2 separate regions of the Homo sapiens genome follow, and region 2 is linked to region 1. A link means that fine-mapping ties the variant in region 1 to the expression of a gene that starts in the linked region. Tissue or cell type: whole blood. Region 1 holds a variant in brackets; the other region holds the start of a gene. All regions are shown on one strand. Distances are between the middles of the regions.

Region 1 (8,108 bases):
CGACCTTACCTTTGGGGCATCATTTTCTCCCAAGACGGAGACCAGTTGCCTAGATGGCCCCCAGGGAGTCCGGCAGCAGCCCAAGTGCTCTATCGCAGCCATAGTAACAGGGTATTCAGGGAACAGACACACGGAGGCACATATCTTTTAGCCAGGCTCGTTCATTATCTTTTGTCTTTAAGTTGGCCTCTGATTTCTATATCAGTTGAAATATGTAATGTCCCAAATTGTGGCAGAAATAAATTAACAAATTAAGCAATCTGAGGATTTTTGGACACAAGGCTCTTCAGAGGGGTGGGAATGAGGAGGAAACAGGAATAAAGAATGTCCCGAGCCCTCAGAGACACTTGAATACCTGAAATATCTAGGATGTTTTAAAACAGGTGCCGATCCCAGGCCCGTGCTCAGGGTACCTGACAGGTACGGGCCAAATGCGACCAGGAAGGAGGGCAGCCCCACACCCGGGCAAACCCTGACAACCGGACAGCTTTCATTTGCTGGAGTAAAGGAGTGACGTGGCTCGGCCTTTGTTAGATGCCAAACACTGATAAAGCGTTCCACTCAAATGGCCTCTTAGATGTGGCCAAGAAAAGTACAAAAAGGCCCAGCTTGCCTGTTGACAATCCCATTAAACTTTCAGTCACTTCTAAAGAACAGGCCAGCACCATCTGAACATGGAAACCCAAGTGCCAACTACTTCTCGTCCACTCTGGAGTAAGGGACAATGGAGATCCTGGGTGGGCACAGGCCCTGCAGTGCTGCATTCCCACTCATCACAGACTAAAATTGCCACCTGTACACCCCAGGTCTGACACTACCAACTGGGAAGGCCAACAGAACCCCACATTCTACTCCAAAGACCCTGGAACGAAGGCACAGTAAATCCACTTATTTAGCTCACTCTGATTCCGCCTCCCCCAGCCGAACTCCACCCTCACCTCAGGCACGGCCAAAACTTTGGAAATTGTTTCACTGATGCTCCAGTGTCCCCAACTACCTTTGATTTCATCAACTGCTTCCAGCCTTCTGTACAACATCCTGCCTACTTCCTTTGCCTCCCTCTAGCACCTTCAACTCTTCTACTCAGGGCCCATAAAACTAAGTGCCAGGATTGGTCTCACCTAGCAGCCTCCCAACACAAAGACCTAACAGGAAATGGCCACCTCATGGTCTTCTGCCGTTTGGTGTGAGGACAGGCACCATGGTACAACTTGAATTTTTGTTTTTATAATTTGGGTCTGTGATTAGCTATCCTTTACCACTTTTTTGGAAATGATTTTTTAAAATAAAGAAAACCCAGAAGGGAAAGCATCAGGATAAATAGCTAATGCACCCTGGGCTTAATACCTAGGTGATGGGTGGATGGGTGCAGGAAACCACCATGGCACATGTTTATCTATGTAACAAACCTGCACGTCCTGCACAGGTATCCCAGAACTTAAAATTAAATTGGAAAAACAAAAACAAAAACACAAAAACTCCAGCCTGGACAACATCTCTAAAAAATTTTTTTTTAATTAGCTGGGTACAGTGGCTCATGCCTATAGTCCCAGCTACTTGGGAAGCTGAGGCAAGAGGATCACTTGAGCACAGGAGTTTGAGGTTACAGTGAGCTAGGACTGCACCACTGCACTCTAGCCTGGGTGAGACCCTGACTCAAAAAAGAATTTAATTTTTTTTTAAAAGAACAAAACCCCTGAGGCTTAGCTGCCCAGTGAGGGCAATGTGTAATTCAGCAGGTCCTCCTGTTGCTCCTTCCCAATCAACATGTCATGTTGCAACACACTGGCTGCCTCCCACCCGTTAGCAACTGTTTTGACCACTATGGTAAAATCATCATGATGGAGGCTGGCTGGAGTCTGCATGGAATGTAGTTAAAGGATGTTGAAAGACAGAAGCAGGGCCTTGTAGATGACAAGAAGGCAAAGAATGATACTGCCATGACCCCCAGCAAGTTCACAGGTTTATCTGCCTAAAAAACTCACACTCCCATTGAACAACTGCTGCCGTTAACTCAGAATGGTCTATCTCTATCAGCAGAAAGGAACAGACAGACCAAGATAGAAAACCAAGCCCCAAAACGCTGGAATCTCTCGCTTCAAGCTACCCCAGCAAGTAAGTGGACCGACCAGGAGCTAAGCTAGAAAAAAGGAAGAGAATGCAGGATTTGAATAGTCTCTAAGATGTCCCAGCAAACAGCAAAGGATGACTTCTTCCCGAAGGAATGGTACATTGCTTCTCTTGGGAATTTGAGAAGGGGCTGGGAGTGAGCTGTTTAAATAAATATTAAATTTGTCCTCTTTTTGGCAATACCATCACCATTCCTGCAAGATGTTCCAACTCCAGAAGCAGCTTTGCCAAATGCAGGGCTGGAACCACACCAGACACTTCCAGGTTTGCAGCAGACAGTAGCACATATCCCCTCTACTGCTTATAGTAATCTGCCTGGCCTCTATGTGCCACCCTACATTGACCAACAGCACCATTTCCAGAGCTTGTACAAGGAACGGCAGGTATGTGATATTCCAAAAGCAATGTGCCCCTTAGTTCTGGATTTGAGCTCTATATGGGCAGATCTGAGTTCGAACGTCAGCGGCACTAGGTAAGACTGCAGTATGTGTGGCAGGCAAAATTCTTAGATGGTAATCCACGATTCCCAGCCCCTGGTTATTTAAACACAAATCTAGTATTGCTGTTGTCAGTTGACCTTAAGATAGGGAGATAATCCAGGTAGGACTATTGTGCTATGAGTCATTTTTAAGCAATGTTTTCTCCAGCTGGTATCAAACGGAAGGTGAATCCAAAGTACCAGGATTCCATGCACCATTGCCAGCTTGAAGGTAGGGGAGACCAAGTGAACAGAAATACGGACAGTGCCTGTCTATATGCTAAGAGTTGTCCACAGCTCACAGCCAGCAAGAAAAATGGGAAGAAAACAGGTGACTTCAGTCCTACAACCCTGAATTCTGTCGACAACCTGAATGAGCTGGAAGCACATTCTTTCCCAGAGCCTTCAGATGAGAGCTGAGCCCAGCCCAGGTGACACACACCCTGATATCAGCCTTATGAGACTCTAAGCAGAGAATCCAACCAAGCCCTGCCTGGATATCTGACCTTCAGAACTGTGAAATGATAAAGAGGTATTGTTTTAAGCTACTAAGTTTGTGAGCATTTGTTATATACCAAGAGCATATTACCAATACAGTATGTAAAGCTCTCAGTAGAATGTCATAGTCCAGAATGTCCTGGCCTTCCTCAAGGTTAACTCTCTACCTCCACATCCTCCCACACCCCTAGACATCAAAGCACAGCCTTTCTCTAGCCCCTTTTCACTTAAAAAGCAAAAGGTACCGAGAGGGAGTGATGAGGCAAAGTTCACCCCCGGGGGAGGACACCATTTGGAATTCAAGTAGAAAGAAGTACATCTTTCCCCTTCTACAAACTTCAAGCCTATGCACATATCAAATGCAGACTCTATTAGCTGGCAGGGGAAATCTGCCATGGATCCTGGTATTCCTGCATATTCTTGCTGGGCAGGCTCTTGCCTGGGTTCTTTCTCAAAACTGTGTTTGCAGGAGGCAGTCTTAAGGGATGAAGTAATCTCTGCACGTGAAACAACAGGCTTGCCATGAAATAGGTGGAGTCCCCAAACATAACAAGTTCTTTGGCTATGATGCAAACTTGTAACATGCATAGCATCTACCTGGGCCCCTCCATGTCCACTGTGAGACAGGGGAAACCAATATAAACACGAAGTTCATGCTGCTTGCTATGCTGAGTAAAGTTCTTTATCTCTGACCCAGGATCCTCATGTCTTCTGGTAGCATCAATAAAAAAGTAATAATCTAACTTATTAGCTTGCAAGGGTAAAATCCCAGACCCTGACTCTATTACACTTATTACACTTAGATCCTTAAATGAGGAGATTTAATGTCTTTACATTATACATTTCAAAGGAACAAAACACCCTTTATGAATTTTCTCATGGAGATAGCA[C/T]TTACATCACAGAGCTATTGTGAAAATAAAATAAGAATGTACAGCACACCTGGAATATAAAAACATCCCAATAACTTACTTGGAGCCCCGCAGCCATCCATCCCTCACATATAAATACAATGAACCAGATGAAGATCCGTGTCCGTGTCCATGACAGCAATCCATTCAGAAGATCAAAGATAAATAGTCTAATACACCAATTTCTGACATTTGCTTAGCACTGCAGGACTCATGAAGAGCTGCCACTCATATTATCTCATTTAATCCCTACAACAAAAACCAAGGCTCAAGGAGGTGAGTCCTTGCAGAAAGAACAGTAACAGACTCCACAGGTTTGCAAAACAGCCATATGACAGAGGGCTGAGGAAGCCTATGATAGTAGGCTGAGGAAGCACAGCTGAACTGCAGCTACGAGACTGTTCTAGCAGCACGACTGTGGCCTGAAGGCACATTCTTCCTCCAGGTAAGGCAAGGGAGCTCTCATGGTGACTGGGCCCCTCCTGGGCAATGGCAATGCCACTGGAGAAACAGCTGGAAACCATATGCTACAGGGATGTCTTTTATTTGTATATTGATATTTCTTCACAGAAAATTAAGCAAGTGGCTATTCTGTCCTGGATTAATCCATTTGGACTTGGTCCCATTGGTGTCCGTGGCAGCTTCTGCTTTGTCTGTAGGCATTGGGGCCTTATCTTGTGATGGTTATCACTTGAGGGTCTTGCTAAGGTTGGAGAAACCAATGCCAACACAGGTCATCAGCACTTTATCCCCACCCTTGAGTTCTTCACCACATGGCTTGGTTTCAATTTTAAACATAATCTGGAAAAAGCTCTTCAAATGCCGCAAAAATTCTATCCTAAAAAGGAAAAAAATAAATAAATAAATAAAAAGAAATTCATTCAAAAAAAAATTATCCTCTACCACCTAGAATCCAAGGTTTTAATCTCCCAGACCTAGAGGGCTGAAGTTAAGACCTTCTCATCGAATCTGATTAAATAGTACTTCCTTTCAGCCAGCCAGTTTCCAAAGAAGATTTAGATAGTTTGCAGAGATACACGCAATACAGCAAGATAAATTAAACTGGGGGGGGAAAGGTTAGAAGTTCGTACGTGACACATAAGTTATTTAGTTCAGACCTAGCAGAAAATGGACAGAAATATGGTGATGACTCTTTTTTTTATAAGAGATGGGGTCTCACTATGTTGCCCAAACTGGCCTCAAGCTCCTGGGCTCAAGCAATCCTCCACCTCAGCCTCCTGACTACCTGGGACTATGGGTGTCCCAATGTACCTGGCTTAGGCAATGATTTTTGAGTGGCCTATACAAAGACAGAAACACCTATTTCCATGATTCACAGCACCATGACATTCAAAACAAGCACAATGACTACTGATGCTGAAACAGACAAGTCCCTCCCTTCATTCTCCAATAATACCCTCGCATTTACTTAATATGTATCAAGTGCCTACTGTATGCTAGGCACTGTTCTTGGTGCTGGGAATATTGCACTCAAATGAAAAAAAATAAAAATAAAAATCCTTCCCTCAGGAGGATTTCAATCTAGTGGTATAGATAGAGACTAGATAAATAAATTAATTTTATTCCTGAAAAGTGCTATGTAATGTAAACAAAGCAAACAACACAGACGGGGAAGAACTGTGGGTATGACAGTATTTGTACATATTTGGCAGAAGGCAATATTAAATAAGGTGGCCGGGGAAGTGTGCACAGTAAACACAACAAGGACAATGGCATCACAGGGCGATGGCATCAGTCCAAGAGTACCTTGGGAAGAGCAATTCTGTGGATGAACCGCAGTGCAGGTGCACAGGCTTCTAATGGTCTCGCCTGGCAGACCTAGCGTCACCCCAGCTAGCCTGACCATAAGACTCACCTGAACAGTTCATTAAATACACAGGTTCCTGAAGGTTATGGTGAACTTGCAACTGGTAGGAAATGTCCATATGGAAGAGCCCAGAATCACAGTCCACACACAAAGCTGATCCCTCCCTACCCTCCACCAGGCCCTGTACTCCCCAGTTCATAGAGGCCAGAAATCTATGTTGTTAACAAGAATCCCTGGCAAGTCTCATTGGGCAAGGTTAGGGAATACTGGCTTAGTGAAGAATGATGGCTTGCACATCTATAGTGAAGTATTACAAAAACCTCGCACTGTACTGTCTCCCAATCAAACCAGCCAAACTCTCCACTCTGGCCAGATGGTTCTCAATCTCGACTGCACATGGAATAACCTAAGGAGCTTTAAAAACACTGACGCTAAACACATAGATCAATGGAAGAGAATTGAGAGTCAAGAAATAAACCACACAGTTATGGCTAATTTCCTCAATGAGGAAAGCATAATCATTGCAACAAATGATGCTGGAACAACTGGATATCCACAGGTGAAAGAATGAAGCTGGGCCCCTTCCTCACATCACACACAAAACTTAACCCAAAAGAGATCAAAGTCATAGCTGTAAGAGCTAAAACTATAAAGTTCACTAAAGAAAATACAGGAGTAAATATTCATTACCTTGGGCTAGGCAACGGTTTCTTAACCATTTCTTAAATACAACACCAAAAGGATGGCAATAAGAGACAAAATAAATAAATTGGACTTCATCAAAATTAAAATACTTTGTGCATCAAAGTGCACCATCAAGAAAGTAAAAAAACAACCTACAGGATTGGAGAAAAGATCTGCAAGTCATATATCTGATAAAGGTCAGGCATCTCAACTATATAAACAACTCTTACAACTCAATAATAAAAAGACAAATAACCTAATTAAACGATGGGAGAGTACAGGCATGGTACCTCACACCTGTAATCCCAACAGTTTGGGAGGCCAAGGCAGGCAAATTGCTTGGGGCCTGGAATTCAAGACCAGTCTATTACGACCCCCATCTCTACAAAAAAATTGTTTTAAAATTAGCCAGGCATGATGGCAGGAGCCTGTAGTCCTAGCTACTCGAGCTATGATTGCACCACTGCACTCCCACCTGGGCAACAGAGTAAGACTCACTGAAAAAAAAAAAAAAAAAAAGTGGGAGAGCTAAACGGATATTTCCTCACAAATATCCAATAAGGACATGAAAAGATGCTCAACATCACTGGTTATTAGGGAAGTGAAAATCAAAACCACTGTGAAATATCACTTCATATCCAATAGGATGGCTATAATAAAAAGACATACAATAACAAAAGTGTGGGTGAGGAGGCAGAACCACTAGAACCCTCATACACTGCTGGTGGGAATGTAAAACGGTACAGCCGCTGTGGAAAACAACCTGGCAGTTCCTCAAAATGTTAACCGGGGAGTTACCATAGGATACGGTAATTCTACTCTTAGGAATATGTACAAGAGAAATGAAAACATACACCCACACAAAAACTTGCACGCAAATATTCATAATGGCATTATTCACAAGAGTCAAAACGTAGAAGCAACCCAAATGTCTACCAACTGATGAATGCATAAAATGTGGTATATCCATTCAATGGAAGATTTTTTTTTTTCTGCCATAAAAAAGGAACAAAGCACTGATACGTGCTACATCAATGAACCCTGAAAACATTATGCTAAGTGAAAGAATCCAGTCACAAAGGACCAGATAGTGTATGATTCTATCTACACAATATGAAAAAGCCACAACAGGCAAATCTATCACAGAGGCAGAAAGGAGATTCGTGGTTGCCTGGGGCTGGGGAGAGTGGGAAGAATGGGAGGCACTGTGAGCTGGCACAGGGTTTCTTTCTGGGGGTAGTAAAAATGTGCTAAAATTAGATTGTGGCTGTGGTTACACAAGTCTGTGAATACACTAAAAAACCTTTAAACTGTGTACTTAAAATGGGTAAATTGTGTCATATGTGAATTGGTTCTCAATAAAGCTTTTTAAAATAAAGAAATCAATACATATTTGCCATGCTATAAAACAACTGATCCTGGTTCTCACCCCTACTCGGTGTATACCAAACTACATATAAAGCCTGCCTTGATGAATTTCCCTCCCATCCCCATCCCTCTGTGCTAAGAGCACTGATCTAGTTAAAGGAAGGAAACAGCTACATGGAGAAAAGGGGGCCTGAACAATTCCTGACCCTGTGGC
Region 2 (8,108 bases), 67 kb after region 1:
CAGTATTTACAACCCCTTTGCAATGGAAGGGGACAGTTTTAAGAGATTCAATGATTTGCCTGAAGTCACAGAGTTTGATCTGTGTCTCATTTGTTTCTAAATCCTTGTGTAGTCTTCTTGGTGTCACATGCTGCTATTCCTAATCATTAGGGATACAGGGAAAAGAAAAGGTTTAATTACTACTGTCAAGTAGGCCAGGGTTTTTCTACATCAGCACTACTGACATTTTGAATGGATAATTCTTTGTTGTGGGAGGCTGTCCTGTAGGATATTTAGCAGCACCCTTGGATTCTAACCACTAGAGGCCAGTAGCATTCCCCTCTGCCAAGCTGTGACAACCAAAAATGTCTCCAAATGCTCCCAAATGTCCCCCACTGAACAAAAGTGCCCCTGGTTGAAAACTACTGTGCTTTACATATAACATAGAAATACGTGGAAACAACCACCTAGGAGAAGAACTTTACAGAAGGCATAATTCTCTTCAAATATCTGAAAAATTTCCATATAGAAGCAGGAACGGATTTGGCATGCCAGGGAGCAGACCTATACCCAGTGGGTTCAAGCTACATAATAATAAAATCAGCTAACATTTATTCTTCCTATGTGCCAGGCACTGTTCAGTACACTTTGAAGTATTATTTCATTTAGTCCTCACAATAACCCTGTGAAGTCAGTAGTACTGGCCCCACTTTACAGGTGAAAAAGTTGAGGCTCAGAAGAGAATAGTTAAAATAATTTGCCCAAGGACCAAGAGCTAATAGCGAAAGGCAGAACTCGTACTCAAACCAAGGTCCAATACTGACCCCAAGCTCTTAATTGCCAAGTATTATGACCATGACAAATTAAGGATTTTACCTCAGTAAAATAAAGAAAATAAAGAACTTTTTGACTTAAAAACTGTTTCTTTCATATGGAGATTTCTCAAAGAACTAAAAATAGAACTACCATATGGCCCAGCAATTCCACTACTGGGTATCTACCCAGAGGAAAAGACATCATTATACAAAAAAGGCACCTGTACTTGTATGTTTATTGCAGCACTATTCACAATACCAAAGTGATGGAACTAACCTAAGTGTCCACCAATGGTTGACTAGATAAAGAAAATGTGGTATATATACACTATGGAATACTACACAGCCATAAAAAAGAATGAAATCAGGCTGGGCATGGTTATTCATGCCTGTAATCCCAGCAATTTGGAAGGCTGAGGCAGGACGACTGCTTGAGTCCAGGAGTTCAAGACCAGCCTCGGCAACATAGACAACACCCCATCTCTACAAAAAAAATTTTAAAAATCAACTAGATGCTGTGGTACACATCTGTAGTTCCAGCTACTCAGGAAGCTAACGTGAGAGGATCACCTGAGCCCAAGAGGTTGAGGCTACAGTGAGCCATGATCACACCACTGCACTCATGACAGAGTGAGACTCTGTCTCAAAAAAAAGAATGAAATAATGTCCTTTGCAACAACATGGAGCTAGAGGCCATTATCCTAAGAGAACTAATTCAGAAACAGAAAATCAAATACTCCATGTTCTTACTTATAAGTGGGAGCTGAACAATGGATACACATGGACTTAAACATGGAAATAACAAACATTGGGGACTGGAAAAGGAGGAAGATTGAGGGAGATTGAAAAATTACCTATTGGGTACGATGTTCACTATTTGGATAATGGGTACACCAGAAGCCCAGTCCCCACCAGTAGGCAATATATCCATGTAACAAACATGCACATGTACCCCCGACTCTAAAATAAAATTTCTTTAAAAAAAGAACTGTTTATTTTGCAAACAATGATTTCCGCAGCCACCATCTCAATCCTATCTGTCCAGATCAGGTCCAGAAAACCTGCCTTCCTTCGTAACTTTCAGGGAAGTGTCTGCTCTGAACTCCACTGAGCCCCTGTACAATACTCAATCCTTCCTACTTCAAGTTACTCAAACTTAGTAACATCCTACTTACATGACAAGCTCCATGAGAACAGGGGCAACCAGCTTCTCACATATATTACACTCACCCCCATACAAAGCCTTGCACATACTGTGGCTCAATAAACACTTTCTAAATAAATGTTCCTGAGGCCGAAAGCCTCCCATACTATCCCTACCCTCCAAAGCCCACACCATGAGGGATGTTTTAAGCAAGCACCTTGAAGAGATGTGATTCTTGCATTAGAACTGAAGATTTTATTGGATATGCTCTGAGTTTTTTCCAACTCTGAGAATCTGAGTTAGGAAAAGTCAGAAAGGGACAGATGACGGGCAACATAGGCTTCCGGCTACATCTTCAATCAAGCTACCAAGGACTCCCTTGATTATGACCAGAAATCATGTGTCAGGGACTACATCTATTTATGCGTGCACGTATATGTATATACACTTACATGTATGTGTATACATATACACATATACATGTATATCTGCAAATGCATATCTATCTCTCTGTTCCCTCTGTAAGAAATTAAGCAGACAGGCTGGGCGCAGCGGCTCACACCTGTAATCCCAGCACTCTGGGAGGCCAAGGCAGGCGGATCACCTGAGGTCAGCAGTTTCATACAGCCTGGCCAACATGGTGAAACCCCATCTCTACTAAAAATACTCTACTAAAAATTAGCTGGGCATGGTGGCAGGCACCTGTAATCCCAGCTACGAGGGAGGCTGAGGCAGGAGAATTGCAGGAACCCAGGAGGCGGAGGTTGCAGTGAGCCGAGATCGCACCACGGCACTCCAGCCTGGGAGACAGAGTAAGACTCTGTCTCAAAAAAAAAGAAAGAAATTAAGCAGACAAACATCTACAAGGTTTCTGAGGCCCTGAAGCCAGCGCAAGGATGTACAAATAACTAGGAGTCTCTTTCTTCCCCTGGTATATGAACGGGGTAAGGCAAATAATGCTCTACAGTAATGTTCCCCATAAAATACCAGCACACCTGCCAAGCAGTTCTACCTCCCTCAGGTATCAGCGTCTGACACCCTTTCAAGAAAGTGCCAAGTGGCCAAGCCCTGTTCTTGGAAGAAACGGGAGCTCATATGTGTGAGATGCTTTGAAGAGATGCTCACATACAGTGGAGGGGGAGAAGGAGAAGCATACTTTGGAACATTAAATATTAAATTGGAGGCCACCTGTCAATAGAAAAACTCTAAATAGAACTAGATTCATTTTAGAGAACCCAGGTTTCCAGGCTATACTTCCATTTCTCTGGAAAAAAAAAAAAAAGTTATGCCTACTTTTATACAAAGTAGAAGTCCATCTTCTTACCATATCCAGCTAGTGGCAAGTTCTCTGAGCTAACCTGAGGGTAAAGTGGATGGAGAGCTGGCTGAGAATGCCACACAGCAATCAAGCAAACACTTTGCCCAAGGGTCAAACTAAGTGGAACACTTGTTGACGGAAAAGTCGTGGCATAAACCATTTGTGGTCTCTCCCTAACTTTCTCAGTGTTTTTGAGCAGTAGAGAGAGGACAGGAACCACCAACACAAGTTTTTCCTACCATCACTAGGTTTCTCACCACTGTACCTGGGATATTCTGCTTCTTTCCTTCCTAACCTATCTCCGTCAATAGCATGGCATCTTCTGCCCTTTATGTGCAGCCAATCACCACCCAAGAGAGGCAGAGATCTAACTATCCAAAAAATGCATTCAGACAGATAAAACAAGAGCCAGTGCAAAATGAAACACATCAGCGCCGCTCAGGAAGCTTCCAGGACCAACCACAAACACTCTTTTTCAATTTACAGACAGGTTTTTTCCTTTTTCACCTGACTACTGACTCGCCCAACTTGGGATAACCACCAGTCAGAAGCTTTTAAATGCATGTATCTCATGCCAGGGGGCCAGGTGTAAACCAAGGCCAGTTGAAAACCGGCGCCATTTAATGAGATGTGGGTTTAAATGGGCCTATTTCTTTTTAACCTACCATTGCAGAGCAAGAAGTGAGCTTGGAAGCCTGCAGTTTAGCGATTGTCACCGACCCCTTTTCTAAAGTCAAGGCAATTAGGCCCATGACTGTTAAAAGTCTATCTCAAAGCTCCTGTCCTGCGCACATCAATCACAGTCACGGCTGAAAACAAACACAGAATTTTAAAAATTTCTTTATCCACACCCAAGGACAAGTGTGAGGGCAGCCGAGAAATCATGGCGACAGGAACAGCCGGTGTCCAAGGGGGCAGCTGCTTCTGAGAACTGCTTTGAGACAGGGCAGAGAACCAACCCAAGGTACTTTTCTCTCCCAATGTCTCTCCCCCGGCTCATTCACCATATTTCGGTCCAACAAACTGTTTTTCTCCTTTGAGAGGTTTATGGCGAGGGCAAGAGGGGCCGAAGGGACGCGAAGGGGCGACGCCAGGGATTTGTTGCTACACGTAAAGCTGGAAAACGTGCAGCTGTTTACTACCAGCGCCCCGGAGACGCCGAGCGCAGCTTGCAGCTGAGCGCTCCCCTCGGGCCCCGACCCCGCCTCCCCCACTGTGCCTGCCCCTCCGGCTTTGGAGGCGACGCGCCACCTGCCCTCCCCGACGCGCTCGCCGGACGCCGAGCCGCCCAACCAACACCGCGCGGGCCCCCACGGCATCAGCTCGGTCTCCCCTCAGCCCCCGCGCCCACGCCGCGCGCCGCCCACACCAAGTTACCTCGGAGGCCCGGGTTGTCGTCTCTGGCCCGAATCTTTCGGATTTTGACGGGGCGCCCGCTCAGGGTAGACAGGACCAGACGTTGGCGCAAGAAGTTGCACCCTGCGTAGCTGAGGGAGTGCGCCTGAGTCGCCATGTGCGCGCTCTCCGAAGAGACGTGAGCAGCCCGAGAGCGGCGACTTCGGACAGACGCGGGACTCGTGACTCCGATGGTGGTGGTGGCGGCGACACCGACGGCGGCGGCTCGGGCTGCCTCCAGCAGCCCAGACGCGTCCACGTGGTTTGGAACAGGAAGACGGAGAGACTAGACACCGGGTCAGAGGGGAGCGGGGCGGAGCCAGTGGCCACCTCCCCGCCTCCCCGCCCGACCGGGGCGGCCCCCGCTTCGGGCCACGCCGCTATTGGCCCGCGCCGGATCAGGGCGGTGCCCGCGCCGCGCCTCCATTGGCTTCCGCTGAAGCTGGGCGGTGCCCAAGCCGCGCTGCCATTGGTCCGTAGTGGAGCTGGGCGGTGCCCGGGCCCTGGCAACAGCGCGCGGCTGGAGGGAACGCGGGAGGATGGCCAGGGAACCCCGGCGCGGGAGTTGCCAGTCGGGGCAGTCTCCTCTGTGTACCTCCTGGCGTGGTAGCAAGGGGAGATGGCGGACTGAGATTGATGCCTACGACGTGCCGGATTCTTAGCATTACTACTTACGGCAACTACTGGGGTGAAGATGCTATTATCTACCCCTCCTCTTTCTTACTAAGAGAGACAACAAGGGTTGGTGCACTCACCCTATCGCAGGGATGCCGCTCAGCGCACTGCCGGCGCAGTCCCGCAGCTCCATGCTGTAACCCTGCAAGGTAGAGCCATCCTGTCCTACTCATGGATAAAGGCTCGAGGAATATTGCAAAGCTGACAGTGGCAGCCTATACTGAGACCCGAATCCTCCCACAGCAGGCCGTTGCTTATTTTATTGAGACACCTCTTTGCCCCTTTCTCACGGGTCCCTTCGTTTATCGTCATTGCGTTTCATGGCAATTCAGGCCCTCCTACCTCGCATGCTTCAAGATAGATAGTTGTAATAACTTCACACACACACACGCGCGCAATGCTTTTTCCCTCTTTCCCGTCCTCCTCCAATCCTGCACAAGAAAATCTTCCCAAACGTTGGATTATTTCACTTCTCTACTCAAAAACCTTCCAAAATGTACAGTTAACTAACAAATGACTACACAAGTAGAAGTCCGATATCATAGTAATGTGGGTTTGTAGCCATTCCTGGACAACACTCACCAAACCATGAGTCCCAGAATGCACGGGGGTTCGCGGGGGGAAGGGGGGCGGGGTATGATAGTGTCTGAAAGCGGTGGGAGTTTAAGATTAAGGGATGTAGCTAGCCTTATGTAGACAACAGTGTGTTATAAAGTGGAGTGGAGTGGCATGCTCATGACTCACTGCAGCCTCAACTTCCCGAGTTCTAGTAATCCTCCAACCTCAGCCTCCCCATTAGCTGGAACTACAGGTGTGCACCACCATGCTCAGCTAATTTTTGTATTTTGTATAGACATGGGTTTTTGCCATGTTACCCAGGCTGGTCTCAAACTTCTAACCTCAAGCGATTGGCCCACCTTGGCCTCACAAGTGTGAGCCACCACTCCCAGCCTTTAATCCATTTTTCTTTGATTTTTGTAAATGGCAAGAGATAGAGATCTAGTTTCACTCTTTTGCATATGGATATCCAATTTTCTCAGCATCATTTATTGAAGAGACTGTCCTTTCCCCAGAGTATGTTCTTGGCAACTTTGTCGAAAATGAGTTTACCGTAGCTGTGTGGATTTATCTCTGCGTTCTCCGCTCTGTTCTACTGATCTATGTGTCTGTTTTTATGCCAGTACCATGCCATTTTGTTTACTCTAGCTCTGTAGTATAATTTGAAGTCAGGTAATGTGATTCCTCCAGTTTTGTTCTTTTTGCTTAGGACAGGTTTGGCTATTCTGGGTCTTTTGTGGTTCCATATAATTTTTTTAATTTTTAATTTTTGTAGGTAGATGGTACATGTATATATGAGGTACGGGAGAAGTTTTGATACAGGCATGCAATGTGTGATAATCACATCCTGAAGGATAGGGTACTCATCCCCTCATGCATTTTATTCTTTGTGTTATTATACAAACAAAACAATTATACTGTTTTAGTTATTTTTAAATGAAAATTAAATTATTGTTGACTACAGACACCTTGTTGTGCTATCAAATAGTAGATCTTATTCTTTCTAATTTTTGTACACATTTATTATCCCCACCTGCCCCCCAACATCCCCACCCCCTCTATGTTTTCCAGTCTCTAGTAACCATCCTTCTACTCTCTATTTCCATGAGTTAAATTGTTTTGATTGTTTGATCCCACAAATAGGTGAGAACATGTGATGTTTTTCTTTCTGTGCCTGGCTTATTTCACTTAACATAATGATCTCCAGTTTCATCCATGTTGTTGCAAATGACAGGATTTCATTCTTTTTTATGGCTGAATAATACTATATTGTGTATATGTATCACATTTTCTTTATCCATTCATCTGTTGATGGACACTTTGACTGTTTTCAAATTTTAGCTATTGTGAAGAGTGCTGCAACAAACATGGGAGTGCAGATATTTCTTTGATATGCTGATTTCCTTTCTTTTGGGTATACACGCAGCAGTGGGATTGCTGAATCATATGGTAGCTCTATTTTTAGTTTTTTGAGGCACCTCCAAACTGTTCTCCATAGTGGTTGCACGAATTTACATTCCCACCAACAGTGTACAAGGGTTCCATTTTCTCCACATCCTCACCAGTATTTGTTATCGCCTGTCTTTTGAATATAAGCCATCTTAACTGGGATGAGATGATATCTCAAAATGAGTAGTTTGCAGATATGTTTTCTCACTCTTTGGGTTGTCTCTTCAGTTTGTTGATTGTTTCCTTTGCTGTGCAGAAGCTTTTTAACTTGATATGATCCCATTTTTGCTTTGGTTGCGTATGCTTGTGGGTTATTAATCAAGAAATTTTTGCCTAACCAATGTCCTAGAGATTTTCCCCAATATTTTCTGTAGCCATTTCATAGTTTGAGGTCTTAGATATAAGTCTTTAATCCATTTTGATTTGGTTTTTGTACACGGCAAGAGAAAGCAGTCTAGTTTTACTCTTCTGCATATGGATATCCAGGTCTCCCAGCACCATTTATTGAAGAGATTGTTTTTTCCCCAGTGTATGTTATTGGCACCTTTATTGAAAATGAGTTCACTGTAGGGTTATAGATTTGTTTTTGGGTTCTCTATTCTGTTCCACTGGTCCATTTGTCTGTTTTTATGCGAGTACCATGCCATTTTGGTTACTATAGTATTTTTTTTTAATTTTTCTTTTTTTTTTTTTTTTTTTTTGAGACAGAGTCTCACTCTGTCACCCAGGCTGGAGTGCAGTGGCATGATCTCAGCTCACTGCAACCTCCACCTCC

Evidence for each region. PIP is the estimated chance that this variant, and not a neighbour inherited with it, causes the effect.
Region 2: RCL1 starts here. The variant in region 1 is fine-mapped to the expression of RCL1 in whole blood (TOPMed, PIP above 0.99). The same link has a PIP of 0.9 or more in B cells, CD4 T cells and blood mononuclear cells.

Annotation. Positions count from the first base shown.
Region 1 is chr9:4,856,869-4,864,976 of GRCh38, reverse strand. RCL1 (RNA terminal phosphate cyclase like 1) reads right to left here. Exons shown (of 9, transcript NM_005772.5): 9 at 3,911-4,852. The coding sequence ends at 4,702. LOC124902113 (a long non-coding RNA gene) reads right to left here. Exons shown (of 2, transcript XR_007061402.1): 2 at 7,902-8,108. Among named protein-coding and RNA genes, the nearest start is that of MIR101-2, 11 kb to the right of the region's middle. The variant C/T (reference allele first, on the strand shown) is at 3,997.
Region 2 is chr9:4,789,753-4,797,860 of GRCh38, reverse strand. It overlaps RCL1 (RNA terminal phosphate cyclase like 1), which reads right to left and starts at 4,917. Exons shown (of 9, transcript NM_005772.5): 1 at 4,634-4,917. The coding sequence starts at 4,769. RefSeq lists enhancers at 4,167-4,666, 4,741-4,790, 5,611-5,660 and a silencer at 4,871-5,230.